Linked DNA regions of Homo sapiens. The protein of the gene in region 2 purifies or fractionates together with the protein of the main gene of each other region. This does not show direct contact. Each region holds a gene or a part of one and is shown on either strand. Other genes may lie near its edges. The genes, in order: METTL13, FAM167A, CDC42BPG, NDE1, CDC42BPA, UTRN and CCDC122.

The links.
Region 1: the proteins of FAM167A (region 2) and METTL13 purify together in Homo sapiens (co-immunoprecipitation; 2 studies listed by BioGRID and IntAct, with this or other methods). This does not show direct contact.
Region 3: the proteins of FAM167A (region 2) and CDC42BPG purify together in Homo sapiens (co-immunoprecipitation; 3 studies listed by BioGRID and IntAct, with this or other methods). This does not show direct contact.
Region 4: the proteins of FAM167A (region 2) and NDE1 purify together in Homo sapiens (affinity purification with mass spectrometry; 2 studies listed by BioGRID and IntAct, with this or other methods). This does not show direct contact.
Region 5: the proteins of FAM167A (region 2) and CDC42BPA purify together in Homo sapiens (co-immunoprecipitation; 3 studies listed by BioGRID and IntAct, with this or other methods). This does not show direct contact.
Region 6: the proteins of FAM167A (region 2) and UTRN purify together in Homo sapiens (co-immunoprecipitation; 3 studies listed by BioGRID and IntAct, with this or other methods). This does not show direct contact.
Region 7: the proteins of FAM167A (region 2) and CCDC122 purify together in Homo sapiens (affinity purification with mass spectrometry; 2 studies listed by BioGRID and IntAct, with this or other methods). This does not show direct contact.

Annotation. Positions count from the first base shown.
Region 1 is NC_000001.11:171,784,373-171,788,717, reverse strand, and holds part of METTL13 (eEF1A lysine and N-terminal methyltransferase), read right to left. Parts: coding exon 4,219-4,345; intron 2,840-4,218; coding exon 2,640-2,839; intron 984-2,639; coding exon 788-983; intron 1-787. UniProt on the Homo sapiens protein: Dual methyltransferase that catalyzes methylation of elongation factor 1-alpha (EEF1A1 and EEF1A2) at two different positions, and is therefore involved in the regulation of mRNA translation.
Region 2 is NC_000008.11:11,459,409-11,463,753, forward strand, and holds part of FAM167A (protein FAM167A), read right to left. Parts: intron 1-4,345.
Region 3 is NC_000011.10:64,830,517-64,834,861, forward strand, and holds part of CDC42BPG (serine/threonine-protein kinase MRCK gamma), read right to left. Parts: coding exon 4,333-4,345; intron 4,062-4,332; coding exon 3,913-4,061; intron 3,839-3,912; coding exon 3,750-3,838; intron 3,462-3,749; coding exon 3,409-3,461; intron 3,321-3,408; coding exon 3,222-3,320; intron 3,144-3,221; coding exon 3,084-3,143; intron 2,875-3,083; coding exon of another isoform or gene 2,821-2,874; coding exon 2,715-2,820; intron 2,444-2,714; coding exon 2,310-2,443; intron 2,228-2,309; coding exon 2,088-2,227; intron 1,994-2,087; coding exon 1,912-1,993; intron 1,612-1,911; exon of another isoform or gene 1,495-1,611; intron 1,206-1,494; coding exon 989-1,205; intron 1-988. UniProt on the Homo sapiens protein: May act as a downstream effector of CDC42 in cytoskeletal reorganization. Contributes to the actomyosin contractility required for cell invasion, through the regulation of MYPT1 and thus MLC2 phosphorylation.
Region 4 is NC_000016.10:15,666,814-15,671,158, forward strand, and holds part of NDE1 (nuclear distribution protein nudE homolog 1), read left to right. Parts: intron 1-472; coding exon 473-626; intron 627-4,345. UniProt on the Homo sapiens protein: Required for centrosome duplication and formation and function of the mitotic spindle. Essential for the development of the cerebral cortex.
Region 5 is NC_000001.11:227,028,132-227,032,476, reverse strand, and holds part of CDC42BPA (serine/threonine-protein kinase MRCK alpha), read left to right. Parts: intron 1-962; coding exon 963-1,179; intron 1,180-2,006; coding exon 2,007-2,069; intron 2,070-3,226; coding exon 3,227-3,820; intron 3,821-4,345. UniProt on the Homo sapiens protein: Serine/threonine-protein kinase which is an important downstream effector of CDC42 and plays a role in the regulation of cytoskeleton reorganization and cell migration. Regulates actin cytoskeletal reorganization via phosphorylation of PPP1R12C and MYL9/MLC2.
Region 6 is NC_000006.12:144,288,095-144,292,439, reverse strand, and holds part of UTRN (utrophin), read right to left. Parts: intron 704-4,345; 5' UTR 612-703; coding exon 533-611; intron 1-532.
Region 7 is NC_000013.11:43,855,351-43,859,695, forward strand, and holds part of CCDC122 (coiled-coil domain-containing protein 122), read right to left. Parts: coding exon 4,322-4,345; intron 3,548-4,321; coding exon 3,431-3,547; coding exon of another isoform or gene 3,383-3,430; exon of another isoform or gene 2,801-3,382; intron 1-2,800.

The DNA.
Region 1 (4,345 bases), on a different chromosome or scaffold from region 2:
TTCGCGGTCTATATTTGACTTTTGAAGTGATTTCAATGAACAAGTATCACTTTTAAAATACAAACTAACACAGGTAAAACAAACTATTGATTCCCCATCGGGGGAGTTTCTGAGTGACAGCTGGGAGACCACTTAAAGGGATCCTAGAAGAGATGGTTTAGATCTACACTGTCCAATACTAGCCACTAGCCCCCTATGGCTGTTGAAATATAAATGTAAATTAATTAGAATTAAAGAAAATTAAAATTCAGTTCCTCAGTTACACTAGCCACATTCCAAACGCTCAGCACTACATATGGCTAGTCGCGACCACATTAGAAACTCAGGAACTAAACATCTCCTTCATCACAGGCAGTTTTACTGAACAGTGGTATACTAGAAGGCCTCTAAGTCACCCGCCAATCCAAAACCCTCTGAAACAGGTGAGTCACACTATGGAGGGCAGGGCTCACCTGCAACTTCCATAGTTCTGGCTCACCTCACAGAGGCCTATTGAAACAATACACAGATGTATATGGAGCACCTGCAAAACAGATGCCTTTAAACCGAAGACATTAATGTGATTATCACTGTATTTGGTTTCACTACTCACGTCCCCTATCACTTCAGAGCCAGGCTCTGCTCAAGAACAGAATGTACTCTGCTTATAGCTATTCACACCCTAAGAGTCCAGATGGTTAAGAACCTACAGACACCCAGGTCCATCCTACATCTCGGCCAAGCTCCCAAGAAATCTAGTCCATGCCACGGCCACTTGGGTCCCACCACTGTGCCTATGACACCTCACCTTTGTGAGACACATCCTTCAGCAACCTGGCTTCGGACTGCACCACATTCCTGTTGCTGAGGAAGATCAGTCGACGGAAGTATCGCTTGTCATCCCCTTGCACATCCTCAATGACATAGTCACCGCTCAAGGGGCTGCAGTCTTGGTGCTGAACGGTCCGGACCCCAATGTCCCCACCCACAGACAGAAAGGGGACCTGAAGGTACAACCAGAGATGTGGTCAAAACAGCAGCTCATTTAAGAAATAAGAGAAATTATAACCCCTTCCCTTTTGTGTGTATATATCCCCATACCACGGTTCTAGACAACAACTACTCCACAGATTTGCCATTCTATTAAAGTACTTTTCTGGAGCCTTTGAACTGATCTCAAAGGTTTAATTCATCTTTTGAAAATCAACTGGACACATAAAGATCTCCCAAACAACTAGTGAGATGCAGCTGATTCTCCCCAAGTTCTTTTAGGGGTTTTTCTCATCAGTAACCCCTAAAAGAACTCTCAATAGTCCAGGATAACAAAAGCTAGAGGGAACCCTCAGGAAGGGGCTGTGATTATGAGAAGGAATCTACACAAGAATAAAGATAACAAAATCCATGGGAGAAACAACCACTCCAAATCTAGAGAGATATTCCTTTCCCCTGATTATTCTCATCTATTTTTCCCCCACTTTTCTGAACCTTAGGAGAAAAATATACTTTCCCCCTAAACTTTCCCACTCCTTCCCCCTATCTTTATTTCTTTTTTTAAAGACCTATAAGACTAGTTAATAATCACCAATATCTCCTGACCCTGCAGACTCAGGCACTGGTGAGAGGCCACAAATGAAGCTCCTCAGAGGATCTGGGCTTCCTTGAAATAGGGGTCATCAACCCCAAAGTTGGCCAGGAAGAATCAAACTTACATTCATCTGTAAACACGAGTCAGCCTAGTGGGCAAAACCACAGGCCAGGAACCCAGGAGCCTGGGTTCTTTTTTTTCAGATCTGTTACTATTTGCACCAAGCCTCTAGATACCTTTGCTTTCCCACCTATCAAGAAGGATCAAAGCTTGGGCAACATAGGGAGACCCTGTCTCTACAAAAAATGTAAAAAAAAAACTAGCCAGGTATGGTGGCTTGCACCTATAGTCCCAGCTACTACCAAAGGCTGAGGTGGGAGGATGGTTTGAACCCAGGAGGTTGAGGCTGAGGCTGCAGTGAGCCGTGATCACACCACTGAACTCCAGTCCAGCCTGGGCAACAGAGCAAGACCCTATCTCAAAAAAGAAAAAAAAGGATCAACTCCTCATCATGAAGTTCTTTTAGTAAAATCACTTGTTCGTTACCCATGGTGACCAGGATAGCACAAGACAGTTGGTGTTAACTGATAATACCATATCACCACTTAGGCAAAAACCTTCGGTTTCCTTCCCAGTAAAACACCTGACCAGCAATGTGAATACCTGGATAACTGTGCTGAGCTGTTTTGGCCCTCTTCCATTTATACCCTCAGATAATGATAGTTCTAAGAAGCAAAATGACCAAGAAAGTCCAGTGTGGAAGGAGAAATCCACAGTCAGAGCAACTCAAATTAGGAAGAACTGAAGCCCGCAATGAGTAGAGCATTTCCATCCTGCCATGTCTATGGACTCTGAGAGGCTCCCCCAGACACAGACGCTACTGTGCTCACTTTCCTCTCATTGCCTGGGGCAAAGGACAGTTTCCCTGCCATTTAACCCTTAGCTGCTGATACCCCTCCAGGATTAGATGAAGAGTCACAGACTCTAGTCCTAGCTCCTGCCAAGGCTCCCTCTGCCTCCCTGGCTGCTAACATGACTTCAGAGACCCATGAAAGCCGTACGAAAGCTTTGTTACCTGCTGCTGGGTGGGCATCCCAGCTGGGGCCAGCTCCATGACTCTAGCCGACAGCTCAGCTTGGATGTGGTCCATGCTTTCATACTGCTGACCTCGGTGAAGGGCCACTGTAATCAACCTCCTGAAGCCAGCACTGGCCGCCAGCTGTTTCCGGCCCTCATCCATGCCAAAGAGCCACTCGGTCTCCCGGCCCTGAGGGACTAGAAAAAAGAACTTGGTTACAGGGAGTCCTGGAAAGTGATCAAGCCCACAACCAATATGGCCCAAACGGCAGGGAGCCAGTCCCTGTCCAAGACCAGCATCTTCCCCAACTGTGACCCACTGAGGAGCTAACAATTCTCTAGTTCACAACATCTAGGGCAAAGCAGCCCATCAGACATAAGGCAGGACCAAGGGTGGAGAAGAAGTGTGGGCATGTCCGTAGGGGAAGGAGGCAGACACCTACCACAAGAAAAACAGCAGTAATGCCAACACAAATAAGCCATGCCAGGCATGACTCCAAGCTGTTGACAAATATATATTAATGGAATCCTCCAACAGTCCAAGATGCAGGTAGTAGTATTATTCCCATTTTTACATATGAGGAAACTGAGAAACAGAAGTTACACTATTTGCCCAACTTCGCACAATAAGTAAATGGTGAAGCTGGGACTCAAACCCAGGCAGTCTAGCCCCAGACTCTACCCACGCTTGTATTCACTGCACTATTTATTTCCACACATGGACAGACAGAATTATAGAATACTTGAAAAACTAGCTCAGTCACCAGGAAACAAATTACCGTAACACCAAGACCATAAACACTTTGCATTTGTCTACAATGTTCCACTTTTGAAAGCACTTCCTCCTACTATCTTTTTTATCCTTATTAAGATAAATCTGATATAACTTACTGCTTTCAGTAATAATGGCTAACATTTACACAGCACTTCCAAGGCCAGGTACCATTTCTAAGAGCTTTTATACTTCTCACAACTACACCAGAGTTACAATCCCATCAAGGCAGAGAAAGAAAAGTAACCTGTCTAATGTCACACCATCAGGAAATGACTGAGCCAAAACTGAAACCCAAACAGTCTGGTTCCAGAGCTCACTTTTTTAGCTGCTACCCTATGCTGCCTCTCCAAATTTTGCAGAGAAGCACAGCAACTTCCCCAGGTCCTGCAGCTCACAGGCTACAGCTGGGACTAGAACCTATGTCTTAGACTTGCTAGTCCAGCATTACTTCCATTACTCCATGCTACAAAGTAACTAGCATCTCTATATCATATGTGACCTCCTAAATTTATCTCTATTCTCTCTCTTCCCTACCAACCCCATTCTCACACTTCATCAAGCCTTTGCAATGGCAGATGAAAAGGAATAGGTCTCAACTCCAAGTAGGTTGCTAGAGAGCTATTACTCTCCTTTCATCATGCCTTGGGTAGTCTAATCCTCTGGAAGTACAAACCCCTGCAAGACAAAAAACAGTCCAGAATCCCACCAAAGCCCCAGCCCAGCCTCAGCCCCAGCCCCAGCCCAAGCCCCAGCCCCTGTAAGCCAGCCCCTCCAGGGAAGAGAGGGAGCAATCCCAACTCACTGATGAAAATCGCAAAATGATTGTCCCGCGATGGTTTCACAGTGGGGCTGTCCACCACGTGGAGGGTGTAGCGTGGCTCCCCCGTGTCCCCATCGCACAAGTCCAGAGACACACTCCCCAGCCTGGC
Region 2 (4,345 bases):
CTAGAAACCTCAGGGGCAAATAACACTGAAATATTCCCAAGGCAATGCTTTGTTTTTCTGTAAAATTGTTCTGGGCAGAAGAGGAAGAAGAGACCGAGCGCCTCGGTCTGCAGTGCCAAGCACGTGGGTGCTGTGAGTACAGCTGCTGTGGCAGGAGGGCCTCTTTCCGGGGCTGGGGTCTTAGTCCTTGGGCAGGGCTGGGCAGTGAGGGGACCTCAGCCTAAGGGAAGTTCTGCCATTAACAACCTGTGACGCTGGACAAGTCACACGACTCTTTGGAATTCAACTGGAACAGGGATTCATTTCATTTCTTTTCTTTTTTTGAGACAGAGTTTTGCTCTTCTCACCCAGGCTGGAATGCAGCGGCACGACCTCGGCTTACTGCAAACTCTGCTTCCCAAGGTTCAAGTGATTCTCCTGCCTCAGCCTCCTGAGTAGCTGGGATTACAGGCACCCACCACCACACCCACCACCACACCTGGCTAATTTTTGTATTTTTAGTAGAGACGGGGTTTCACCATATTGGCCAGGCTGGTCTTGAACTCCTGACATCAGGTGATCTGCCTGCCTCGGCCTCCCAAAGTGCTGCGATTACAGGCGTGAGCCACCGCACCAGGCCAGGGACTCATTTCATTTGTCTGCTTGTTTTGGTTGATGGAGGTGGCTCCTGGGCCAGTCCCAGGGACAGCTGTGATGCTGGGGCCACCAGTGTGAGAGGATGGGTACATGGCATGAAACCCACTACAGGGCTCTGGGAGGGGCAGGCGCCCTAGTGGGCTGCACCCGTAGATTGCCCTAACACTCCGGCTTTAGGCAGCCCTCGGTGCCTCCTGCCTGGGGTCCCAGCATTGCCGATGGGAGCGGGAGAAACATTTTGGACAGAGCCAGCCTGGTGTGGAAGAGAAAAGAGTTCCCGACCTGGGAGTCAGCTACTGGGGTCCCATCCCACCCTAAGCCATTGGTTTGGGTGTGATGACCTCCGTGCCCTCTTCCACCCTGACACATGCAGAGTCAGCCCACAGCAGCAGGTAGTGGGACCACCATGTCATGGAGCCACCCCCACGGGGCCAGGGAGTAGAGGCGCCGACTCGCCCACGTTTCCCTGGGGACTGTCTCCCAGCAGAGCCCGGTTTGCAGTGTCCTATGCTAATGGTTGCACTTCAGCTCAGGATAGAAGCTTCCGTTTCCACACCTGGTGCAACAAGAGCAACCACATGCATTTTTTAATCACACTGCATTTGCAAATTTTTTTCCCCACACACACAATGACCTGGGCTAGGGAGGCCTTCCTAAGAATTATACCACAGAGAACTGCACACCAGAGCCATCGAAAGAACTGCCCCAGGTCCCACAGCTCCATGAGTGGCGCTGGCTGCGCTTGCACCCAAGTCTTCTGACTCCGAGTTGAACCCTGCATCTATTGTCTAGGAAACAGGGAAACCTTGCTTGTCTCGCTGGGACATTATGAGAAAAGAATCTATAAAAATACTTAAGACCTTTGCAAATTCAAAGTGCTGGGTCCATGCTGAATAATTGATGGGCTCAGGCTGCTTCAAGCTGACGCACAGTCCTCCTGCAGGAAGGCTGGGAGCGCGGAAACCTTCCTTTTCATTTAGCCCGGTGAAAGAGGCTGCTGAGAAAATTGCCAAGAAATACTGCTTCCCTGTTGGTCAGAAAGAGGCCCTGGCTCCTGGGAGCCACAGATCTAATTTATGGGCTCCCTGCAAGGCGGGGAGAAAGCCCAGGGCCACTGCAGGGAGAGGGGCTCTTGGGACGCCCAGTCGCTGGTGTGTCCCTTCCAAGGCTGCGGGGCTCTGGGAAAGGGCGGCCCTGGCAGGCAGGAAGAGGTGCCTGAGAATCTGACAGTTTGGAGGAGATGGGGAGGGGGAAAGTAGCCATGGGAAAAAAAGAGAAGGATGTGGTTTTCCTCCCGGGAAACGCTCGACAAGGCAGGGATGCCCAGACGGGCTAAGGCAGCCTGCTGCCGCCCCGCCAACCGCCACATGAGACCCAGGGCTTTTCTGGCCAAAGGCCATGGTGGCAGTGGGGATTAGAGGGCAGAAAGTAGACACAGAGTGGCCTTTAAAGCAATCTGCAGAGATGAAAGCAGAATGCAGCGCAGGCCGGTACCCTGGCTATACAAACAGGAAACACTTCCCAGCTGGCTGAAACTCAGACACCAGGGCACAGCTAAGGACACGGGGGATGTGTGCCCTCCCCTGTGGCTTCAGCCCACCAGAGTGGCTCCTAACCAGCTGGCATTGGCCTCAGCCTCCAAACAAGGCAGATCTAGGACTATTTGAATCCACAGGATAATTGGCTCCAAGTTGAAAATAGGCAGAATCAACAAACGCCAGCTCAAGGGGGGATTTGTCCAGATGATCTGATTTCTATTTTACTCTGCAGCACAAGTTCCAAAGCCCAGAGTTTCTAAAAGGCTTCGTAAGGCCTTTCACGGTGTTCCCTGTGCTTATGCCAACTGGGCACCTCCACGTTCGGGCTGGGGGTCCTGACCTCTCAGGGGCTAGAAGGGTCCTTAGGGTTTCCTGGTGTTTGGACGCAGTGGGGTCCCAGTGTGGCCTCAGCCTGGCTTGGACTGCCCAGTGCAGCCTGTAAGTGGCTGCAGGTGCAGCGCTGTGCCTGCACTGGGGTTTGGCAGGGACATATGGCCTGAGTGCCCGCAGGCAGGGCAGAAAATGGGATGTGTGACTTTGCTTCCCTGCCGTGTCAGCTTGCGCTGGAGGTACTTGGCTGCTGAAGCCTCCCGGGTTCACACCTCGCAGAGGAAAGGAATCAGGAGCAGGAGAAAGGGATGGAGCAAGTTAGAACAGGGCAGAGCCGGGTGTCGGGGGACGTGGGTTGGTTGACAGCCAGCCTGCCACTTACTAGTTCTATGACCTTGATCAACAGATTCAACCCTCCTAGGCCTAGGTTCCACATCCATGAAACAGGATTGTAATGGATCGTACCTCACAGTCTTGGAAGGACCAAATGAGATCAAGTTTACGTGAATTTTTAGTTACACCTCTAATACGACTGTCACCTCCTGCTCTTGACTGTGCTTGGCTGTCACTCTCCTTGGTCCATCGAATTGGGAAATGGCTCCTGCACTGCGAAAGTTAACTGAAGCGTGCAGAACAGCATTTTACTGTGAGCTCAGGACTCTACTGCATCAGCAACCTCGCCAGACTGCACGCTCCCTGAGGGCACGGCCTTCACCTTCTGCTTCCTTGGTAGGGTGGTGCATTTGGATCCTAAACTCCTTTGCAGAGATGGTGGGCTGTTCTGTGTGGTTTCATTATGCCAGCTACAACCTAGATGTATTCAAATCAGCAACGCCCACCCCTACCCCACTCGCAGCCACTGCCTCGAAGCAGAAAGCATCTGCTCCAGAGGCAGCAGGGACAGGCACTTCAGCGTCTTTATCTCTGGTCAGCATTGGGCATTTGATGATTAGCAAAGTAAATATTAGAAATGCGTTCTCATTGGTAAAGACAGAGGTATTCAAGATGTGTGGGTTGGCTAAATGAATTCAGAGACACTCTTGACTCAGGAAAGAGCAGGTAAAAGAATCCATGAGAGCTCCAGGGAGGTGTGGTCAGGGCAGCAGAGAGCAGATTGCTGGGCTTCACCGAGCCCACAGGACAGGCTGTATGGACTCCGCTGGACTTGTTTCAGGTAAATATTTGTCCAAAAATGTGTACGTCTGGCAGAATTTGCTCTGAGGCTGCTTTCATTCAAACTTGATAATGAGGCTGGCTTCACCTTCCTCCAAGTTTTCAGTGGCTGCTATCAAACAAATAAACAAAATAGCAGCAGCCACACAACCAAATTTGGGAAGTGCCTTTGTGACTGGAGGGACTTAGGTCAGTTCACGCCTGGCATGGGACTTCCAGGGCGAAGTGCGTGGAGCTGATCACAAGACTAGGGAGGTAGTGTCACTTTCAACTTGATGGTGGACAGTGGGGGCCAGGTCCCTAAGGCAAAGACCCTCATCCAGAACCTTCCTGGGTGGCCACCACCCTAAGCATGAGCCTGCTGACCTAGGGGCTGCTGTGCCCAGCCAGCTCGCAGAGGCTCCGCTGGCTTCCTGGAATGAGGAAACACTGCCCAGCCTTCGAGAAGGCCTGGAACTGTAGCCAGTGCACAAGTCACTGCCTAGGCTCTTTCCATACCTGCCACTGGACCTGGAAAATGGGGTCTGACCTGGGCCTGTCCCTCTAGGGATGCCCAAGGGACAAGCCCTGCGAGGGAGCCCTTGGGCATCTACTGCCAGCTTCCACCTTTGGATCAGGATGCCCTGGAGGGAACTTCCGGCCACACTGAAGAAATGGGGGCTTGGTCC
Region 3 (4,345 bases), on a different chromosome or scaffold from region 2:
TGGGGACAACGATGGTACTTCCTCACAGAGCAACTCTGAGGAAGCGAGGAAGTGATGCAGGGGAGGGTTCAGCAGAGCCCCTTGCTCAATAAATCCCCTCCCCTCTGGTTCCCGACTGCTCCAGGGACCCGCACAACCTCTCCTGTGTCTCCCGCCCTGAGAGCCGGGCCTGGCTCAGGGCCTCAGCTGCTGGGGAACGCCAAGGAGCTCTGTTTCATGCCTCTTTCCCAGCCTTAGTTACAGAAGAGCCCTGCTGAGCCCCAGGTTCAAGGCTGAGCACAAGTGAAGCTCTTCGCAGCTCCACCCAGGAGATGTTATGAGGCTCTGGGTGGTTCTACAGCAGCTCCCCCAGTCCCCCAGCTTGTAGTGAGACAGCCAGGACTGAACCTTCGTTTCTCTCTTTCTAAAGCCTTTGTTCCAGCTGGGCACGGTGGCCCATGCCTATAATTCCAGCACTTTGGGAGGCCAAGGTGGGTGGATCACCTGAGGTCAGGAGTTCGAGACCAGCCTGGCCAACATGCTGAAACCCCGTCTCTACTAAAAATACAAAAAATAGCCAGGCGAGGTGGTGCATGCCTGCAATCCCAGCTACTCTGGAGGCTGAGACAGGAGAATCGCTTGAATCTGGGAGGCGGAGGTTGCAGTGAGCTGAGATTGCACTGCTGAGCTCCAGCCTGGGCGACCGAGCGAGACTCTGTCTCAAAAAAAGAAAAAGAAAAAAAAAAAGCCTTTGTTCCTTCCACTTGCTTGAGATTCTTTTGGAAAAAGCAGAAACTGAGGCACAGCGAAATGGAGTGGGGATAAGCCAGGCCCCCTACCTGGGGGCCCAGCCATGCACACAGGAGGCTGGAGCACATACGTGGTGCAAGGCAGTCTGTGTCTCGTGGCTGCAGGGAATGGGCAGTAGCAGTGGCCCTTGGGACTATTCCTAGACACCAGCACTCCCGCAGGCCTGAACTGCTTCCTCCAGTCCCCTCCACCAGCTCACCGAGGATGGCAGCGCAGAGCGTGTGAGGCAGCAGCGGCAGCCCGTTGTCGTAAGCCTCCTTGAGTGTGTACACGGGCCGGGGTCTTGGCCGCGCGTCCAGCAGCAGCCGCTGCAGCTCACCCAGCACCTGCAGCCAGCGTTCCCGCTCCCCCTCGCTCTCTGCCAGCAGCAGCACAGTGCACGTGGTGGGCGGCACTGCCAGCTGGGAGGTTGTCACCTGTGGGCAAGGACCCCAGCTGGAGGGCCGTGGACCAGAGCCATCTGTCCTCCCTCCCTTCCTGCCTCCAGCAGCCGCTGTGCCCCGGGGGCCTAGCGTGCACTGTCAGCAGCAGGGAGTAGGCCAGACAGGCAAACAGACAACTCCAGAGCCATGCGACCAGCGCCATAATGGGGCAAGGACGGGCCTAGTGGGAACACAGAGGGACCCAAACCGGGGCCGGGAAGTGAAGGATGACTTCCCAGGAGACCAGACATTTCTGCTGAAGCCTGAGGGACGAGTAACTAACCAGGAGTAGTCAAGGTAGGTGAGGGGCTGGGCTCCAGTGCAGGGCCGGCAATTTCGTGCAAAGACAGATGTGAAGGACTGAGAATGTGGTGCACACAGGCACAGGGCGCCTTCAGAACTGGAGAGAGCAAGGTGTGACCAGAGCAGAGACAGGTGCCAAGGGAGAGGGCTGGGAGGCCTGCAGGGTCAGAGCCTTGGGGCCTCAAGGGCTAGGTCAGGAGCACCCCGAGCCCCGCAGACGATGGGAAGCCACAGCAGATCCTAAACGAGGTGAGACCGGGCCAGGTGCTCACGTGGAAAGCGTGCTGTGGTTGTGGGCTGGCCCAAGAGGGCAGTATGAAGTGGGGGGACAGTGGCCAGAGCTGGGACAGCATGGGGAGGTGGATGGTGGCTGCTCCATCTCATCCCAGGCACTCACCCTAAAGATGCGTGGCAGGTCCCTGGATTGGGCATGGATAACATCAGAGGCCAGGACAGGGGTAGCCGAGAACTGGGGGTCCCTGGGAGGTTCACAGAACAGGTCAGAAATCTCCCTGTCCCTGACTGCCCCCCTTACCACTAGTCCCTTGCCCCATGCCACTGCCCGGCACCTACCTCAGATCTAGGACCTGCAGGAGGGCCCCACTGGGCGGGCTGAGCCTCAGGTCAGGGGCGTCAAACAGCAGCAGGCGTGAGTCACTCAGGGCAGCAAACACGCGCTGCCAGCCCCGCCGGACACCTGAGGGCCGCGGCACCTGGCGGAAAGGCAAGCATGGGAGGGCTGCAGGGACCCTCAGCCCCCCATGCCCATCTTCCCCTCCCTCGGCCCCCACTCACCGACAGAAAGCCCTCATAGGCAGTGCCTGTGCCTGTTTCGGGGTGTACTCCCAGGGCTGTGCGGAGGAGGTCAGGGGGCACGGGGCAGGGTGGGGCCTGTGGGGCACAGGTTGTGTGACAAAAGTAGCCGCAGGCTGTGGGGAAAGTGGAGAAGGTGGATGAGGTGAGGCTGGGAGGGGACAGCCCCAAACCAGGACGGGGGCATGTCCAGAGCCAGCTTCCCTGAAGCCACGGTGGCACCCGAACTGTCCCCAATTCCTCATCAAGTGAGAAAAGGAACAAAGCTGAGCAGGAGGAAATTTGACCAGCAGGTGCCAGTGACCCTGGGATGGGAGAAACAGCCTGGGTATGCCAGGGCCACACACCTGGGACCGTGGCTGGAGCATAGTGGGTGGGGACTCTCACCATCACAACCCAGGCCCTGGCGGCCCAGGCCCAGCATCAGCGAGGTGCAGCGGAGACACTTGGTCGGGGATGGGAAGCTCCGGGGGCGCAGCGTGTGTGAGCCGGGCTGGGGAGGGGGACAGCCATTACCCAAGGCCTCCCAGGGCCCCATGCCCCATCCCTGAGGGGTCAGGAAAGACAAGGGGCTGAGCCAGGCAACAGTGACCTCCGAGTCCCAGCCAATCTATGGCGGCAGGCAAGCTCATCGCCACCACCTCCACCCCAATTGTGCCTGCTAGCCACGATGCACGTGGAGTGTCCCCACAGTGCCCATTCAGCCTGGCAGAACTGCTTGGTGCCCCCACCCTGCTTGCCCCTCTGGGCACTGACCTTAGCAGGAAGACCTTCTGTAGAGGCTGTGTTGGCAGTGGGTGCTCTGGGGAACACAGCCTGCAGGAGGGCGGGGGAGCAGGTGAGACGGGCAAGGGCGGGGCCCAGGCCCCCTACGATGGACCCACCTGTCCTCACCCCCATGCGCAGGCTGCGTCGGCCCTCCGGCCTCAGATCTGGCTCTCCTCCATGCCTTGTGGCCTCTCCTGAGATGCCAGGGTCCTTGGCAGAATCCTTCTGGGGGTGGGAGAGAGAGGAGCAAAGTCAAGGTCCCTGTGCCTCTCCCAGAACTTCTCCCCAACAAGCCCCTTGGCCTGGTCCTTACCTCTGAGCTCCGGAAGGACAGGAAGGGAATCAGGGAGTTTGAGGGCTTGGTGTCTGCAAAGAAAGGGTGGGTCACTGGCCTGGGGTCCCTGGCCTGAGGAACTAGGGTCCAGGAGGGGCCTCAGTTCCCACCTCAGTAAAATGGGAAATGACCACAGGGTGGGGCAGGGCTGGGCACAGCAGGCACTCCAGAAGTGCTGGTCACAGATGATGGAGTAAGCGGCAGAGTCCAGGAACAGACTCCTGTCTCCACCACCCTGCCAGGCCATCGTGGAGCCCCCTTGGCAAGTGGGAGGCCGCGGGGGAGCCTGGCTCCGGGGCAAGCAGTTGGCAGCCACTCACCCACTGGCCCTCGGGCCCGCAGCTCCTCCCGCAGCATGGCGAGCTCCTGTTGCAGGGCCTGGCTCTGCTTCTCGGCCTCCTGCAGACGGCTGGGGAGAATGGCAAGGGCTCGCCACTGGCCTCTGTGCGGGCCCTGGCCCCCAGTGCCTGCCCCTAGCCTCACCGCTCAGCCTGCAGCTGGGCCTCCTGCACCTGTGTCAGCCGCTCCTGCAGGCCCTGCTTGGCGCGGATCTCGGCCTCCAGCGCTGACTGCAGCTCCAGCCTGGCCGAGGCCTCCATCTTCTGCAGTCGCCGCGCCTTCCACTGGTGGTCCTGGTGGCCACGGAGCACCCGTATAAGATGCTTTCTAGGCCTGGCTGCCTCAGGGACCCCCTGCTACCAGAGCATCCTGCTACCCATGCCACCCAGCCAGGCTCAAAGCTCCAGCTCAGCCAATGACCCACTGTGAGCTCAGGGAAATCACTATCTCTCATGAGCTTGGTGTCCCCACCTCCAGTAGTGACCTTCAGTAGCAGGGATGCTGAGCTCACGGAAGGTCAGTGACTTGCCCAAGCCAGCCCCCAGGGGCATCTCTGGGGCTCACCAGTGGCCGGGCA
Region 4 (4,345 bases), on a different chromosome or scaffold from region 2:
AGGTCTTACTATGTTGCCCTGGCTGGTCTGGAACTCCTGGCCTCAAGTAATTCTTAATGAGCCACTGTACCCAGCCCTTCCTACTTTCTTTATTCTAGTTTGACTTAAAGGTAATTCAGGCTTGATATTTTTAAAATATTCCTTGAATTTGGCCAGGTACAATGGCTAACGCCTGTAATCCCAGCACTTTGAGAGGCCGAGGCAGGCAGATCACCTCCAGTCAGGAGATCGAGACCAGCCTGGCCAACATGGTGAAACCCCGTCACTACTAAAAATACAAAAATTAGCTGGGTGTGGTGCCGCATGCCTGTAGTCCCAGCTACTCGGGAGACTGAGGCAGGAGAATCGCTTGAACCTGGAAAGCAGAGGTTGCAGTGAGACGAGATTGCAGCACTGCATTGCAGCCTGGGTGATAGAGCGAGACTCTGTCTTCAAAAATATTACTACGTGATGATTAACAATTTTGCTGTAGGGCAGAAAATACGCAAGAGGAACTCCGAGAATTCCAGGAGGGAAGCCGAGAATATGAAGCTGAATTGGAGACGCAGCTGCAACAAATTGAAACCAGGAACAGAGACCTCCTGTCCGAAAATAACCGCCTTCGCATGGAGCTGGAAACCATCAAGGTGAGGGGCTGAGAGGAAGTGTGCTCAGGTGTAGACAGGCGTCCAACACAGGCATGGCATGCTTGGCTGGAAGAAGGAACCCTGCAATGAGGGACTCCAGACCCCAGGCCCATGCTCATCTCTGGAAGGGCCTGTGCGGCAGACGTGATCTTTGAACTCTTTGTGCCTCTAGTGGGTGGTGCTTTTTGTTTTGTTTTTTTTTTTTTTTTGAGATGGAGTTTCACTCTTGTTGCCCAGGCTGGAGGGCAGTGGCGCGATCTTGGCTCACTGCAACCTCCACCTCCCAGGTTCAAGTAATTCTCCTGCCTCAGCCTCCTGAGTAGCTGGGATTATAGGCGCCTGCTACCACGCCTGGCTAATTTTTTTTGTATTTGTAGTAGAGACGGGGTTTTATGTTGGCCAGGCTGGTCTCGAACTCCTGACCTCGGGATCCATGATGGGTGGAGCTTTGAGAAGCAAGTCACACACATGTTCCCGTGGACTTTCTTGGTTGTGTACACTGATTTTATAGGGCACATGGCAGGGAGACTTTTTTTTTTTTTTGAAACAGGGTCTTGCTCTGTTGCCCAGACTGGAGTACAGTGGCTGGATTACAGCTCACTGCACCCTGGACGTCTCAGGTTTAAGCAGTCCTCTCACCTGGGCCGGGCGAGGTGGTGCATACCTGTAATCCCAGCACTTTGGGAGGCTGAGGTGGGCAGATCACGAGGTCAAGAGATTGAGACCATCCTGGCCAACATGATGAAACCCTGTCTCTACTAAAATTACAAATATTAGCTGGGCGTGGTGGTACACGCCTATAGTCCCAGCTTACTTGGGAGGCTGAGGCAGGAGAATCACTTGATGGTTGGAGGCTGTAGTGAGCTGAGATTGTGCCACTGCACTCCAGCCTGGCAACAGAGCGAGACTCCGTCTCAAAAAAAACCAAAGTCCTTCCACCTGAACCTCGGGAGTAGCTGAGACTACAGGCATGCGGCACCATGCCTGGTTAGTTTTTGTATTTTTTATAGAGACAGGGTTTCGCTGTGTTGCCCAGGCTGGTCTTGAACTCCTGGACGCGAGCAGTCCTCCTGCCTTGGCCTCCCAAATTGCTGGGATTATAGGCATGAGCCACCACCTGGCCAGGGAGACATTTTTAGGGTATGGAGGTGTTGCTAGAGTAATATCATCAGGTCCAATATTGTAGCCCTTAGCTACATTTGGCTGTTGAAATTTAATGAATTAAAATAAAAACTTAATTCCTCAGTCACAGTAGCCACATTTCAAGTGCTTAGGAGCCACGTGTGGCCAGTGAGTTTCCTTAGTGGACAGAGGGGCTGCAGACCATTTCCTTCATTACCAAAAGGTGTGTTGCACTCTGCCAGTTCAGAGCAGGTTTCTCGACCTGGCTGCTGTTGACATTGGAGCCCGGATCATCCTCCGTTGGGAGGGACTGAGGTTTGCTTTGTGGGTTTTTTGTTTGTTTGTTTTGTATTTTTGAGATGGAGTCTTGCTCTGTTGCCCAGGCTGGAGTGCAGTAGCGCGATCTCGGCTCACTGCAAGCTCCGCCTCCCAGGTTCACACCATTCTCCTGCCTCAGCCTCCCGAGTAGCTAGGACTACAGGCGCCTGCCACCACGCCTGGCTAAATTTTTTGTATTTTTAGTAGAAACGGGGTTTCACCGTGTTAGCTAGGATGGTCTTGATCTCCTGACCTCAGGATCCGCCTGCCTCAGCCTCCCAAAGTGCTGGGAATACAGGCGTGAGCCACTGTGCCCAGCCTGTTTTTTTTTTGAGATGGAGTCTTGCTCTGTTGCCCAGGCTGGAGTGCAGTGGCACAATCTCACCTCACTGCAACCTCCGCCTCCCAGGTTCAAGTGATTGTCCCGCCTCAGCCTCTTGAGTAGCTGGGATTACAGGCACCCTCCACCACGCCTGGCTAATTTTTTTTTTTTTTTTTTTTGAGACGCAGTCTCACTCTGTTGCCAGGCTGGAGTGCAGTGGCGTAATCCCGGCTCACTGCAACCTCCACCTCCTGGGTTCAAGTGATTCTCCTGCCTCAGCCTCCTGAGTAGCTGAGATTACAGGCACACACCGCCATGCCTGGCTAATTTTTGTATTTTTAGTAGAGATGGGGTTTCACCATGTTTTCCAGGATGGTCTTGATCTCTTGACAGTGTGATCTACCCGCCTTAGCCTCCCAAAGTGCTGGGATTACAGGTGTGAGCCACCACGCCCGGCTAATTTTTGTATTTTTAGCAAGGACGAGGTTTCACCATGTTGGCCAGGCTGGTCTCGAACTCCTGAGCTCAGGTGATCCGCCCGCCTCAGCCTCCCAAAGTGCTGGGATTACAAGCATGAGTCACCCCGCCTGACCACACTGTGGGATGTTTGGCAGCATCCCTGGCCTCCACCCTCTAGATGCCAGTAGCATTCCCCGCACCTCCAAGGTGGTGAAAACCAAAAGCACCTCTAGACATAGCCAGGTATCTGGAGACCCAGTGCTCTGCAAGGTAAAAACCATCCCTTCTGTACATGCTGTAGGGCTCAGCAAGGGATCACTAAGTCAACACCGTGCCCCAGAGACTGGCTCTCAGCCTTAGCTGCCAGCCAGCATCACTAGGCCAGCTTCATAAACATCCGACAGGCCTGAACCCTCTCTCCCCATCCCCATCTCCCCGCCTTGCTCTGAGATTCCATTTCTCAGTAAGTCTGGGTGGGGCCCTGGCATGTCTGTGTGGTTTTCTTTTTCTCATTAAACTCCCAATGTACATTTTGATGAGCTGCTTCATGGAAGAGTCAAAACTGTGTGTGCCCAGGGCTAGGTATGATGGACGGTGAAAGGGGAAGTGCTGGTTGCCTTCTTTGGGAAGACAAACCTAATGCCATGAAGCAGTTGGGGACGTGAAGCTCAGTCACAGAACTCTGATGTGGGGGCCTTTCAAGAGAAAAAGGACTGGCTGGGTGCGGTGGCTCATGCCTGTTATCCCAGCACTTCAGGAGGCCGAGGTGGGCAGATCACCTGAGGTTGGGAGTTTGAGACCAGCCTCACCAACATGACAAAACCCTGTCTCTACTAAAACTACAAAATTAGCTGGGTGTTGTTGTATGTGCCTGTAATCCCAGCTACTTGGGAGGCTGAGGCAGGAGAATCACTTGAACCCGGGAGGCGGAGGTTGCAGTGAGCCGAGATTGCACCATTGCACTCTAGCTTGGGCAACAAGAGCGAAACTCTGTCTCAAAAAAAAAAAAAAAGAAAGAAAAAGAAAGGACTGCATGGGTTGAGGGAGGCTGTGTGGAGGGTGTTTGTAGGTGTATGTGTTGCTGACACTTGGTGCTTGGGGAGATGGGGCTGAAGGAGAGTTGATCTGTACCCATCACAGACGTGGACAAGAATGGGTGTCGGGTGGACCTTGGCAAGCCCAGCTTTACTAATGTATAGGAAAGGGTGTGGGACCAACAAATGGATTGGGGGTTTGGGGCAGGGCGGAGGAGAGGTCCCAGACACGTTGAAGGTGGTCATTGAAGCTGAAGCTTTCTGTTGGAGACCACAGAGTGCAGCTGGCCGTCTGCAGATCCATCTGCCCCATAGGTGTTGTTTGATCGCCTTCAGGGGTTTTTGTTCAGCATTTCCCCATGAACGTTTTCCAGCATATAAGGCTGAAAGAATTTCCAGTGAATACCTGTGTATCCACCACCACCTAGGCTCTACCAATAATATTTCCCCTACTTACTTGCCTT
Region 5 (4,345 bases), on a different chromosome or scaffold from region 2:
GTGGGTAAATTAAGACAATAGAGGTTAAAAAAAAAAACTACTGCCCAATTGTTATGCCTATCTCCCTATATTTGTCTATGAATCTTGTATCTAAGGAAGGTCAGGCAAAGATTATACTTAGTCTCTTAGTTCCCAGACTGACAACTATTTATTTTCCTCCCAGCCACCAAGGGAGCCTACAGAGGCCCACTTATCTATAACTGATTTTCATAGTGTGAGTTTATTGTCACTGCTACTTAATAAGGAATTCTTTACTTATGATAAGGAATTCATATAGGTAAAATTTAAAACTGCTCTGATAGTGTTGTTTGTATAATGATAAACCTTCATTTAAATATTAATTTAAATGGTCAAATCTTAATGATAATGCGAGTTATTGTTGTGAAGTAACAGAGAATATATTTCTGAGCACTTCTGACCTTAAAACAAGTCACAAGTCAGTATGGTGTGGCGCTTAAGAGCATGGGCACAAGATCCCAGACTTGTAGTTGTATGTCCTTGGAGAAATGATTTAATTTCTTTGCATCACCATTTTTTTCATATATAAAATAAGGATATAATGACAGTACATCCTAAATCATGACGATGTTAACAGAGTTAAATGAGTTAATACTTGTAAAGTGCTTAGATCTACCTGGTGCTCAGTATTTACTCAATAAATGTCAGTTGTTGTTGTTGTTGTTATATATTTAATGCCTCTTTAGTGATAGTGTTCTGGCACTTTTACAGAAGGAAAATGAAAATGATACTAACATTTCAAATGGTGTCTGCCACCTTTGCTTTGTCATGTATTCTAGTGCTAAAGGTAGTTATTCTGATTAGGAATAGCTGAACTCCAGTAATGGTATCATTTAATGAATGCTTATTTTATTGGTGAGTGCTAAGCAAACTAACATAATCATGAAACTAGCATAAAGGGTGTCTGTTTTCTAATATCATGAATATTGATTAAATTGTTCTAGGTCACAGCTTCCCAGCTCTCAGCATCTAATAACAAATGTTCAATCCTGATGCTAGCAGACACTGAGAATGAGAAGAATAAGTGGGTGGGAGTGCTGAGTGAATTGCACAAGATTTTGAAGAAAAACAAATTCAGAGACCGCTCAGTCTATGTTCCCAAAGAGGCTTATGACAGCACTCTACCCCTCATTAAAACAACCCAGGCAGCCGCAATCATAGGTATGAATTTATAACATTTATCATATTATTATCATTGTTTACTAATCTACCTTGAGAACAGGGATTGGCTTTCATCTAGGAATCCCCAGTGTCCAACATACTGTGCATCATATCATAAATGCTCAGTACATGTTTACTGAATGAATGAGACCTATATCAGATCTTTGTTTTTCAGTAAACAGGAGTATAAATACACTTTCAAAGTGCCTTTTTTTTCCTGAAAAAACAACAGTGCTAAGCATTAGCCTACTAATCTATTTTCTGCTTGTGTGATTTAGAACAAGTTAGTTTCTTAGAGTTTAATATATAAAATACAGATGGTAATTACCTTGCTGAGGTTATTGGGAAGTTTAAATAAGATGGAATACATAACACAGAGTGCCCTGCATAAGAAAGAAATCCCCTTAACAAATGGCAGTTTCTGTGTCTGGAGGTTTAAATTTTTGCTGTATTCCTGTGTATGCATCTAACTCTTTTGTTACTTTCCATAAATACTGAAAAGTTCAATGAGTATGGTTCAAATGCCATTCACAATTTTTACCTCCCAAAACAATAAGTGTAGAACAACTTAGGTTTTTCATTTTGTTTCATCATTTATTAAACATTTACTTCTTTTTGTAAGTATTGATATGGATTATTCTTTAATAATTGTTCTATTTTAGAAGACATGAGAGATTTACCAGTATAATCTGAAAGGAAATAGTGTAAACTGTTATTGTAATTCATTTTATTTCCATTTTTTGCACCAAATGTTCTTATCATCTGGTTTATTAGCATTACATGGTTTTTTTCCTAATAAAAATCTTTCACATTCATGTCTTACATAGATCATGAAAGAATTGCTTTGGGAAACGAAGAAGGGTTATTTGTTGTACATGTCACCAAAGATGGTAAGAGAAAACTTTTTTTTTTTGGAGTAATTTTAAATCGTGTTAAAAAAATTTAAACTGTAGATTCTAAATTCTACAAAGAGCAGGATTTGCTCTTATTTATCCTGCGACTAAAATTTTCCAGACCTAATTTGACGTTTATAAATTAAAAGATTATTTTTAAATTTCTATAATCCCCCTGAGGTTTAAAACTTCAAATATGTATTGTCTTTCTTGTATCATTTTATTTAACAGTTCTGTACGAACTCAGATTGCATTTCTTTTTTTTTTTTTGGAGACAGAGTTTCACTCTTGCTGCCCAGGCTGGAGTGCAGTGGCACGAACTCGGCTCATTGCAGCCTCCGCCTCCTGGGTTCAAGAGATTCTCCTGCCTCAGCCTCCCAGTAGCTGGGATTACAGGCATGCACCACCACGCCCGGCTAATTTTGTATTTTTAGTAGAGATGAGGTTTCTCCATGTTGGCCAGGTTGGTCTCGAACTCCCAACCTCAGGTGATCCACCCGCCTTGGCCTCCCAAAGTGCTGAGATTATAAGCATGAGCCACTGCGCCCAGCCCAGATTGCATTTCTAAAGATGGAACATGAAAAAAAATATATACAACTTGATTTTCACATTGTTCTATTAGTACCAGAAGAGGCAACAGCTATTAAAATGTGTTTGTTTGGAGGTTTTTCTTCTAGGGAAAAACTAAATGCTGGGTGAAATAAAGAGAAACCAATATAACTTGGTATTCATAAATACAGTATTCTAAGTTTTATCTTTATGTCAACTTAGATCATGGGAAAACAATGCATTGTTAGCCATATAAAAACTTCTGAAAAATAAGTTCTCTGTTTTTAAAAATGGGAATCCTATGGTGACGTTCCCTAGAATTTAGTGCCAGTAGAAAAGTTTCCTTGAAGATTTGGCATACTTTTACACAAGAATCCTTTGGGGTTTGCCTTGGCTGCCAGAAATCTCAGGACTCAAATTTAATACGTACTATAGGTGAGTTAAATTATCTTATGATGGGTTGGATAATCTTTTTTTCCTGTGACTTCTGATGTCTTATTCTTCCGTATGTGCATCTGTAAGTTGACTTACATCCTTTTGAGTATAATTGGGATATGATTAATCAATAAAACTATATTTTGATTTATTATTCTTTCTGTGTTTAGAAATTATTAGAGTTGGTGACAATAAGAAGATTCATCAGATTGAACTCATTCCAAATGATCAGCTTGTTGCTGTGATCTCAGGACGAAATCGTCATGTACGACTTTTTCCTATGTCAGCATTGGATGGGCGAGAGACCGATTTTTACAAGCTGTCAGAAACTAAAGGGTGTCAAACCGTAACTTCTGGAAAGGTGCGCCATGGAGCTCTCACATGCCTGTGTGTGGCTATGAAAAGGCAGGTCCTCTGTTATGAACTATTTCAGAGCAAGACCCGTCACAGAAAATTTAAAGAAATTCAAGTCCCATATAATGTCCAGTGGATGGCAATCTTCAGTGAACAACTCTGTGTGGGATTCCAGTCAGGATTTCTAAGATACCCCTTGAATGGAGAAGGAAATCCATACAGTATGCTCCATTCAAATGACCATACACTATCATTTATTGCACATCAACCAATGGATGCTATCTGCGCAGTTGAGATCTCCAGTAAAGAATATCTGCTGTGTTTTAACAGCATTGGGATATACACTGACTGCCAGGGCCGAAGATCTAGACAACAGGAATTGATGTGGCCAGCAAATCCTTCCTCTTGTTGTAAGATTCTCTTTCTTACGGCTGTCTTATCTTTATATCTCTTCTTCCTTTTCCCTTCTACTTCGTCTCCCAAATGTTGTCATTGTTGATAACAGTTTTTTAAAAAAGTCATTCTTAATGCTTTTCCTCAGTATTGATTATGTTGTTGATGTAAAAACCATATGTAGTTAGGCCTGGGCAAACAGGGCCAGCATTAGCATGCACGTAATTTAAACAAAACATCTTTCTGTGGAATATTTCACTAAGATGGATTTTTTACCCCACATCATATTTTGAAATAACCCAGAATTGTTATCTCATGGTCCCCCAAAATATGGTGCTTGTAAGCATCAGTGTTTCACAGAACTTATTCTGGAGAAGTAGTTACTAAGTGAGTTATTTAATCAGGTATGTAAAGGTATAATGTAACATCTATAAGAGGTGTTTTTTCAGTTTTCCACTTTTATCTAGATGGGTAGATATTTATAATTGCTTATTTTACCCCTTCAAGAAATATTAAGACATAATAAATTATTGAATACTTTT
Region 6 (4,345 bases), on a different chromosome or scaffold from region 2:
AAACCATGAATCTGTCTGAGTCTGGTTTATTAGATTACCTAGGTGAAAATTTTACCTTGAGAAGGCTCATAAGATATTTCAAGGTAGGACACCTGTTGGCCTATCAATGGCTATGAACAGGGATGGGGGTGAGGATATATGGTAATGAAATCAAACTGTGAAAGATCTTTCCTGCCAGAAACTGTGGCACTTCCTACATTAAGCATATAATCCCTTCAATTTCCAGAAAATAGAAAGAGAAATGTTCGGTCGTATTTTATTTTAATGGAGTAGTCTTCCAAATGAACAACCTTTAGCTACAAGCAGCAGTTTCACTAAGCACAAAATTGGGTTGAGAAAGGATAGGACACTCAGAGATATTATACCTTTTACATATACCTTTTACAAAATTATAGTCATTTGTCAGAATTCAGTTTCTTAAAAGAACTTCACCTCCAAGAAGTTCTTGCAAGAACAATGCAAATCAATCCAAGAAACATAGGTTTTCTAAATACATAAAAATCCATAGCTTTCTTGAGCTTCCTTTACCTACCAGATCTGGACTTAATGATATCACTGAATTCGTTCTGCCCATTGTCAGGACTGGCTTCATGTTCTCCATACTTGGCCATCTTGCCAGAGTTTCAAGATAATCCAAAAACTTTACCAAGTCCTCTTTCTAAGGCTTTCAACTTCCTACGATGGTTCAGCTTGACATCAATACCTAAAAGGAAAAGGGAAAGTACTGACTTGAAAAAATGTATTTATATATTTTATATAGTTATTCGTAGTAACTATTCATTCACCAAATATTTATTGAGTGCCTACCACGTGTAAAGCACCAAGCCAGGCAATGGTGTTATGACTATGAACAAGAGACATAGCCTCTGCCATTACGGCGCTTATGCACACTAAGCAATTAATTACATAATGAATTATTTCATTACAATACTGACAGACTACAAATCATACAAAGGAGAAGCACAGAGTATTAAGAGCACACAGCAGAGGAGTCTGACCTGCCCTGGGCAATTAGAGAAGGCTTTCTTGAAGAGACATTTGAGCCAAGCCTTTAAAGATGACAAGAATTTAATTAGCCAAAAAGGGAAACAGAAAGAGAAAAGGTAAGAGCTTCCTATGTGAAGTGGCAGAAAGAATCATGGAGCAGTCAAAGAATGGAGCACAAGCCAGTGTTTCTGGAAAGAAGACAGCCAAGAGACAAGTGTACCTGTTGAACCAGGTGAAGAAGCTGGGCAGGACCAGGGATAGGACCATGGAGAACAGGTCAAGGGTTTGTGTCTTTATCTGAAGAGCAATGGGGAGCCAGTAGATGGTTCGAAGGAGGGAACCAACATGGTCAAATTGGCCTTTTTAAAAGATCGTCAAGGGACGGGCACGGTGGCTCATGCCTGTAATCCCAGCACTTTGGGAGGCCGAGGCAGGTGGATCACGAGGTCAGGAGTTCGAGACCAGCCTGGCCAGCACAGTGAAACCCTGTCTCTACTAAAAATACAAAAAAAAAAAAAAAATTAGCCAGGCATGGTGGTGTGCACCTGTAATCCCAGCTACTCAGGAGGCTAATGCAGGAGAATTGCTTGAACCTGGGAGGTGGAAGTTGCAGTGAGCTGAGATCACGCCACTGCACTCCACCCTGGGCAACGAGAGTGAGACTCCATCTCAAAAAAAAAAAAAAAAAAAAAAAAAAAAAGACGATTGTGGCTTGTAGGTAGACCACAGTAATATGTGGGGAACCAGTGAAGACTATGGCAGAATATAGCAAAATGCAAATTAAGGAACCTAGCTCATGGGTATATGAATGCTGAATGAAAATTTCTTGCAACTCTTCTGTATGTCTGAGAATTTTTTCATAGTAATATGTTGGGGAAAAATTCCTAATCTTAACCAAGTGATCAAAATTCACATAACCAATCATGGGGCATCATGCAATTGAATGGAAAATCACCACATCATCTACACAATATCCTTGCCAAGATGTTGAACGTGAATCTTCTCATGAGCAGACAAATCTAGACTGTGGCTAGTTTTCAAAAGAAATGGCCTGGTTTCTTCAAAACTGTCAGCGTCTTGAAAACCAAAATTACCTGGGAGAGGGGGAGCTTTGTGAATTAAAGGAGACTAAATAGACATGACAATGAAATGTAATCTTTGATTGAATTCAGAATTTTAAAATAAAACATTTGAGGATCATTTGAAAAATCTGAATTTGGACTATGTATTAGACAATATTATTGTATCAATGTTAAATTTCTTTAACATTAATTATGGTATTGTTGCAGGAGAATGTCTTTGATTGTAAGAGACATGTGGTGAAATATTTAGCAATGAAGTGTGATGGTATCTTCAACTTAAGTTCAAACAGAATAGCATATATCTGTCTATACTGATATAGGTATATTTAGGTTGATATATGTATGTAGATGTATATATGCATACACACAGACAGACAGAAAAATGCAGTAAGTATTGTAAAATAAGTGGGAAAACTAGGCCGGGCAAGGTGGCTCACGCCTGTAATCCCAGCACTTTGGGAAGCCAAGGCAGGTGCATCACCTGAGTTCAGGAGTTCGAGACCAGCCTGGCCAACATGGTGAAACCCCATCTCTACTTAAAAAAAAATACAAAAATTAGCTGGGTGTGGTGGCAGGTGCCTGTAATCCCAGCTACTTGGGAGGCTGAGGCAGGAGAATCACTTGAATCCAGGAGGCGGTGGTTACAGTGAGCCGAAATTGTGCTATTACTCTCCAGCCTGGGTGACAAGGGCAAAATTCCATCTCAAAAAAAATAAAGTAAGTGGGAAAACTTGTTAAAGGGCATCTGGGTCTAGGCGAGGTGGCTCACACCTGTAATCCCAGTACTTTGGGAAGCTTAAGCGAGAGGATTACTTGAGCCCAGAAGTTTGAGATCAGCCTAGGCAACATGGTGAGACCTTGTCTCTACTCCATGTAAATAAAAATTTTAAATAATAAAATAAAATAAAATAAAAAGGACATCTGGGTGTTTATTGTGCTATTCTTTCTATTGTAATATTATATGCAGGAAACAAGTGTGGTCTAAACAAGAGTAGATAGAAAGAAATGGGTGAATATGTGGGATATTTAGATATCAAAGAAAGTCAATAGGATTTGGGAATTGATTGGATATGAGAGATTCATATCCAATGTGCAAAATGTGCAAAATGACTCCCCAATTTTGGCTTAGGCAATTAGGTGAAGTGTGAGTCATTGAGCTGGGCAACACTGAGGATAGCAGGCTGGGAGAAAGGAATCATCAATGTGATTTGGATTTGCAGAGCTTGAAATGCCTCTGAGTTATATAAGCGGAGATGACAAAAAGAGAGTTGGGCCCAGCATGGTGGCTCATGCCTGTAATCCCAGCTCTTTGGGAGGCTGAGGCAGGCAGATCACTTGAGGTCCAGAGTTCAAGACCAACCTGGCTAACACTTGAGGTCAAGAGTTTGAGACCAGCCTGGCCAACATGGCGAAACCCTGTCTCTACTAAAAATATAAAAATTAGCCAGGCATGGTGGCAAACACCTGTAATCCCAGCTACTCAGGAGGCTGAGGCAGGGGAATTGATTGAACTCAGGAGGTAAAGGTTGCAGTGGGCCAAGATCGCTGCCACTGCACTCCAGCCTTGACGACCGAGTGGGTGAGACTCCATCTCAAAAAAAAAAAAAAAAAAAAGAGAGAGAGAGAGAGTTGGATATAAAGGATTGGATCATCAATCTGACAGATTTTATGAGAGTCTAAAAAACTTTTTTCATTTTTTATAGGCTCTACTACTGCTAAAAATTTATGGATTATTATATGATTACATTCTTTCATTCAAGTACATAACTATAAAGGATTTGCTAAATTCTTAAGTGTATTTTATTATATTCAAGAATCAAAAACTTTGTTCAGAAGAATGTCTATAAAAGTTTATCATGGAAAATTAAGTTTGCCCAGGGAAAAATTCTCTTTCCTGGAAAGAACTACAGTGTATCACTTTGGAGCAGTAAGTCTAATGCTTTTCTTCACTATTGGTCTTAGCCAAGATCTCCACTTCTATGCTACCCAAAGCCTTTATTCACCCATAAAAGAGAAAAGTCAACTGTTTACACACTACTTTATTCCATTTGCCCATTATCAGTAACACTTCTTCACTATAATGTTTCACTTGCCACTCTCCTCAAGGTGATTTTTCAAATTTTTCTCTTCTTGATAATGAAAATCCCTTACAGGTTGCAAAGATACAGCAGAAAAGGTGATCAGAGTACAGAGGAAAATGGGGAGAAAGAAGAATAACAGAAGGCTATTTAAATAGTGATAGCCACTGAGGTTACTTGCCATTAATGGCCAGAGGA
Region 7 (4,345 bases), on a different chromosome or scaffold from region 2:
CATTCACAGTTGCCACACACACACACACACACACACACACACACCCCTAAGAACACAGCCAACCAGGAAGGTAAAAGATCTCTACAAGTAGAACTATAAAATACTGCTCAAATAAATTAGAGATGACATAAACAAATGGAAAAACATTCCATGCTCATGGATAGGAAGAATCAGTATCATTAAAATGGCCATACTATCCAAAGCAATGTATAGATTTGATGCTATTCCTTTTAAACTACCAAAAAAAAGTTCAGCATCATAAATCATTAGGGAAATGTAAATCAAAACCACAAGGAGATACCATCATCACTAGTATCAAAAAGTAAAAAAATAAAACAAAACAAACAAACAAACAAAAAACATGCTGACAAGGTTGCAGAGAAAAAGAACACTTATTATACACTGTTGGTGGGAGTGTAAATTAGTTCAACCATTGTGGAAGACAGTGTGGCAATTCCTCAGACTTAAAAACAGAATCCCATTCAACCCAGCAATCCCATTACTGATTATATACCCAAAGGAATATAAATCATTCTATCATAAAGACACATACACGTGTAAGTGCATTGCAGCAATATTCACAATAGCAAAGACATGGAATCAACCTAAATGCCCATCAGTGGTAGTCTGGATAAAGAAAATATGGTACATATACACCATGAAATACTATGCAGCCATAAAAAGAATGAGATTATGTCCTTTGCAGGAACATGAATGGAGCTGGAGGCCACTATCCTAAGTGAATTAATGCAGAAACAGAAAACCAAATACTGGATGTTCTCACTTATAAGTGGGAGCTAAATGATGAGAACTTATGGACACATAGAGGGAAACAACACACACTGGAGGGTGAGAGGAGGGAAAGGATCAGGAAAAATAACTAATGGGTACTAGGCTTAATACCTGGCTATTGAAATAATCTGTACAACAAACTATGACAGAAATTTACCTATATAACAAACCTGCATACATACCCCTGAACTTAAAAGTTAAATTAAGGCTGGGCGCGGTGGCTCACGCCTGTAATCCCAACACTTTGGGAGGCCGAGGCGGGTGGATCATGAGGTCAGGAGATCAAGACCATCCTGGCTAACATGGTGAAACCCCGTCTCTACTAAAAATGCAAAAAATTAGCTGGGTGTGGTGGCAGGCGCCTGTAGTCCCAGCTACTCCGGAGGCTGAGGCAGGAGAATGGCGTGAACCTGGGAGGCAGAGCTTGCAGTGAGCCGAGATTGCACTACTGCACTCTAGCCTGGGCGATGGGGCGAGACTCTGTCTCAAAAAAAAAAAAAAGAAAAGAAAAAATCTCTCAATAATTTGTTTTCATGTATAAAACTTTGTTGCAGGATATCTGACAAAAATCGGTGAACTGTATGGTATGTGAATTTTATCTTAGTAAAGCTGTTTATAAAAATCAGAATAGTGGCTATTTGATAAAAAGGGTAGAAGAGAACTTTCTGGACATGCTGGGAAAGTTCTATATCTTGATCTAGGTAATGCCAACATAAATATATGTACATGTTAGTCTAAATAAATCAAGCCATCCATTTATAATTTGTGTACTTACTCTTATGACAATTATACCTCAATAAAATATGTTACTGTAAAAAAATTAAAAGGTAATTTCACATTTCTTTCCAAAGTGCTTTTAGCAATTTACATTCACAAGAATACTGTATTAAAATTCCCACGCTCAACATCTCCCAACTGTAATACCGATAATCAGATGGGCTAAACATGGAACTTTGCTGTGGTTTTAATTATCAGTCTCTTATTGCTAATGAGGATGGTCATATTTTTCTTTATTTCTGATATTCATGGTTCAGAAAAATGGTCTTTTTATACCATTTGCCCAATGTTTCACTGATTTGACATTTTCTTATCTCTTTCTTATCACATACATGTGTTATAATAATCTAGAATGGAGTCTTGTTCTTTCTCTTGTGATGGTATATTCCCATAATCTGGAAATTTATGGCATAGTCAAAACTAAAGATATTTAACCACAGAATTTATGGAGTGTTTTTCTCTTTTAAAATAAATGCTTTTCTGACACAAATTTTTAAGTTTTTATCCTATGTTGTATTCAATACTTAGAAGTGTGTGTGTGTGTGTGTGTGTGTGTGTGTGTGCACGTGTGTATTATGAGGTAGGAATCCAGTTTTATTTCAACATTTTTCTTTATTTTTCCATAGAGGTAATCTATTTTGTTTTTACCACTCAAGGATGCATAATTTCTGGATTCTTTTTTTCATTAATAATTTTTTTCTGGCCGGGTGTGGTGGCTCACGCCTGTAATCCCAGCACTTTGGGAGGCCGAGGCAGGCGGATCACCTGAGGTCAGGAGTTTGAGACCAGCCTGGCCAACATGGTGAAACCCCATCTCTACTAAAAATACAAAAATTAGCTGGGCATTGTGGTACGTGCCTGTAATCCCAGTTATCTGGGAGGCTGAGATGGGAAAATCGCTGGAACCCGGGAGGCCGAGGCGGCAGTGAGCTGAGATCGCACCACTGTACTCCAGTCTGGGTGACAGAGCAAGACTCCGTCTCAAAAATAAAGAAAAAATAATAATAATAATATTTTTTTCTACTCTTTTACCACTGATACACTGTCTTACTATTTATTGTTTTATAATGAACCTTAATGTCTACAAGGGCAAAAAGAATCGTTATTTAGATTCCTAGTAAACTAAAAGGTAAAATCGTGATATTTTTTAATAGCGAATATGTAAAGATGAGGATTTTTATCTTTAATTTCCTCAGATGCTTTGTATTGTGTCAAATTAGTCAAAAACAAGTTGAAACATGCATATTTTTATTTTCCAAATTAATGTATTCAGGCAAAAATTATTTGCCCTTAATAGCATATTATTTTACATTTCTGTTCACCATTCATCCAAACAATAATGACAATAGAAGTCCACAGGCAGCACCACAACACATTATGAATTTACTCTGACTTTCAATTTTGCATATTTTCAGTTTGTTTTTTTAACTTGACTCTTGATAATTGCGAATATGAAGTCAGAGAGGTTTGGAAAGACGATGCTTTCCATTGTGTTTTATTCTATTTTGAGGAGTCTTTGATATCTAAGAATGGGCATCCTCTTTGACTACATAGCTGCTTTCTAGCCATTAATTGGGTATCATGTTCTTAGTGGAATGAGAAAAACCTGGAAGAACCCTCGCCCAGATTTAAATAGGAGTGAATGCTTGCATTGTTTGAACACATTCACATATTTGAACATCTTTGAATGAGGGGGTTATCTCTAGTTATCTATTAATGATTTGTATTTACTAAATTTTATAGTTCTTTCTTGTTCTTCAACTGTTTTGAGTATTGAGAGTAAACTATGGAAATATGAATATAGTGTTAAGTTTTAAAAATGGTCCCATAAAACATTGAAATCTAGATAATTAAGACTTACCTCTATTTCTTTTCTTAATTTTTCATGTGTCTTTTTTTCTTCCTCAAGAAAACAAGTTTTTTCAATGATAGATTCTTTTACAGTTATAATTTTATCCTTTAAGTTTGTAATGTCTTCCTGTATGTTGACAACATTTGAAATATAGAAGTCAAAAAAGGATGATCAATATAAATCCAATTTTTCAGTGTTTCTATAATTTAAGAAAACTAGCCAAATCAAAATTTAGTTTTGATAAATAGCATTAGAATATTACTTCTATACGTATACAAAAATAAAGAACTGTTACTCAAAGAAACCTTACATTTGACACAGAACTAAAAACCAAATGAAAATAAGACAAAAAGGAAAGTGGTAGTTATGGTGGCAACTGCCGAACAACAGTGTAAAAGACACTTTTTAATTCTCTAGCAAGAAATGATCAATATTTTAAGTTTGTGTCTTCTATCGTCTTCAAAGAACAGTAAGAGAAATAGTAAGATGCTTAAGGTTCAGTTATTAATTTATATTGCTTGCATAACACCATTAAGTGTACTAAATTGATTTGAATTGGTCTGGATCCATTGGCATAGAAGCTAAGTCTTTAACATTTTTGTGAATTACATTTTCTACAACAAATGGATTAATTGTTCACTGTGATTTTATTTGACCATGTAGTTTTATAAATCTACAGGGGATTTGTGGATGTTTCCTTTATGCATTTGAGCATCTAGGGTCGTTGTTATATAACACATGTACTTATTCCAAGTTTTTTTCAATTATGAAAATAGTTTCTGAAGGTAATAGGACAGCTATGGGCATTTTATTAACTTCACAATAAATTTATCATTTAATGTATGTACTTGCAAAAAAGGAGTAATAGAAAAAATAGTTTTACTAAGTAATTTTGCACACCTGTACTTGTGTTATTCGGTTCCC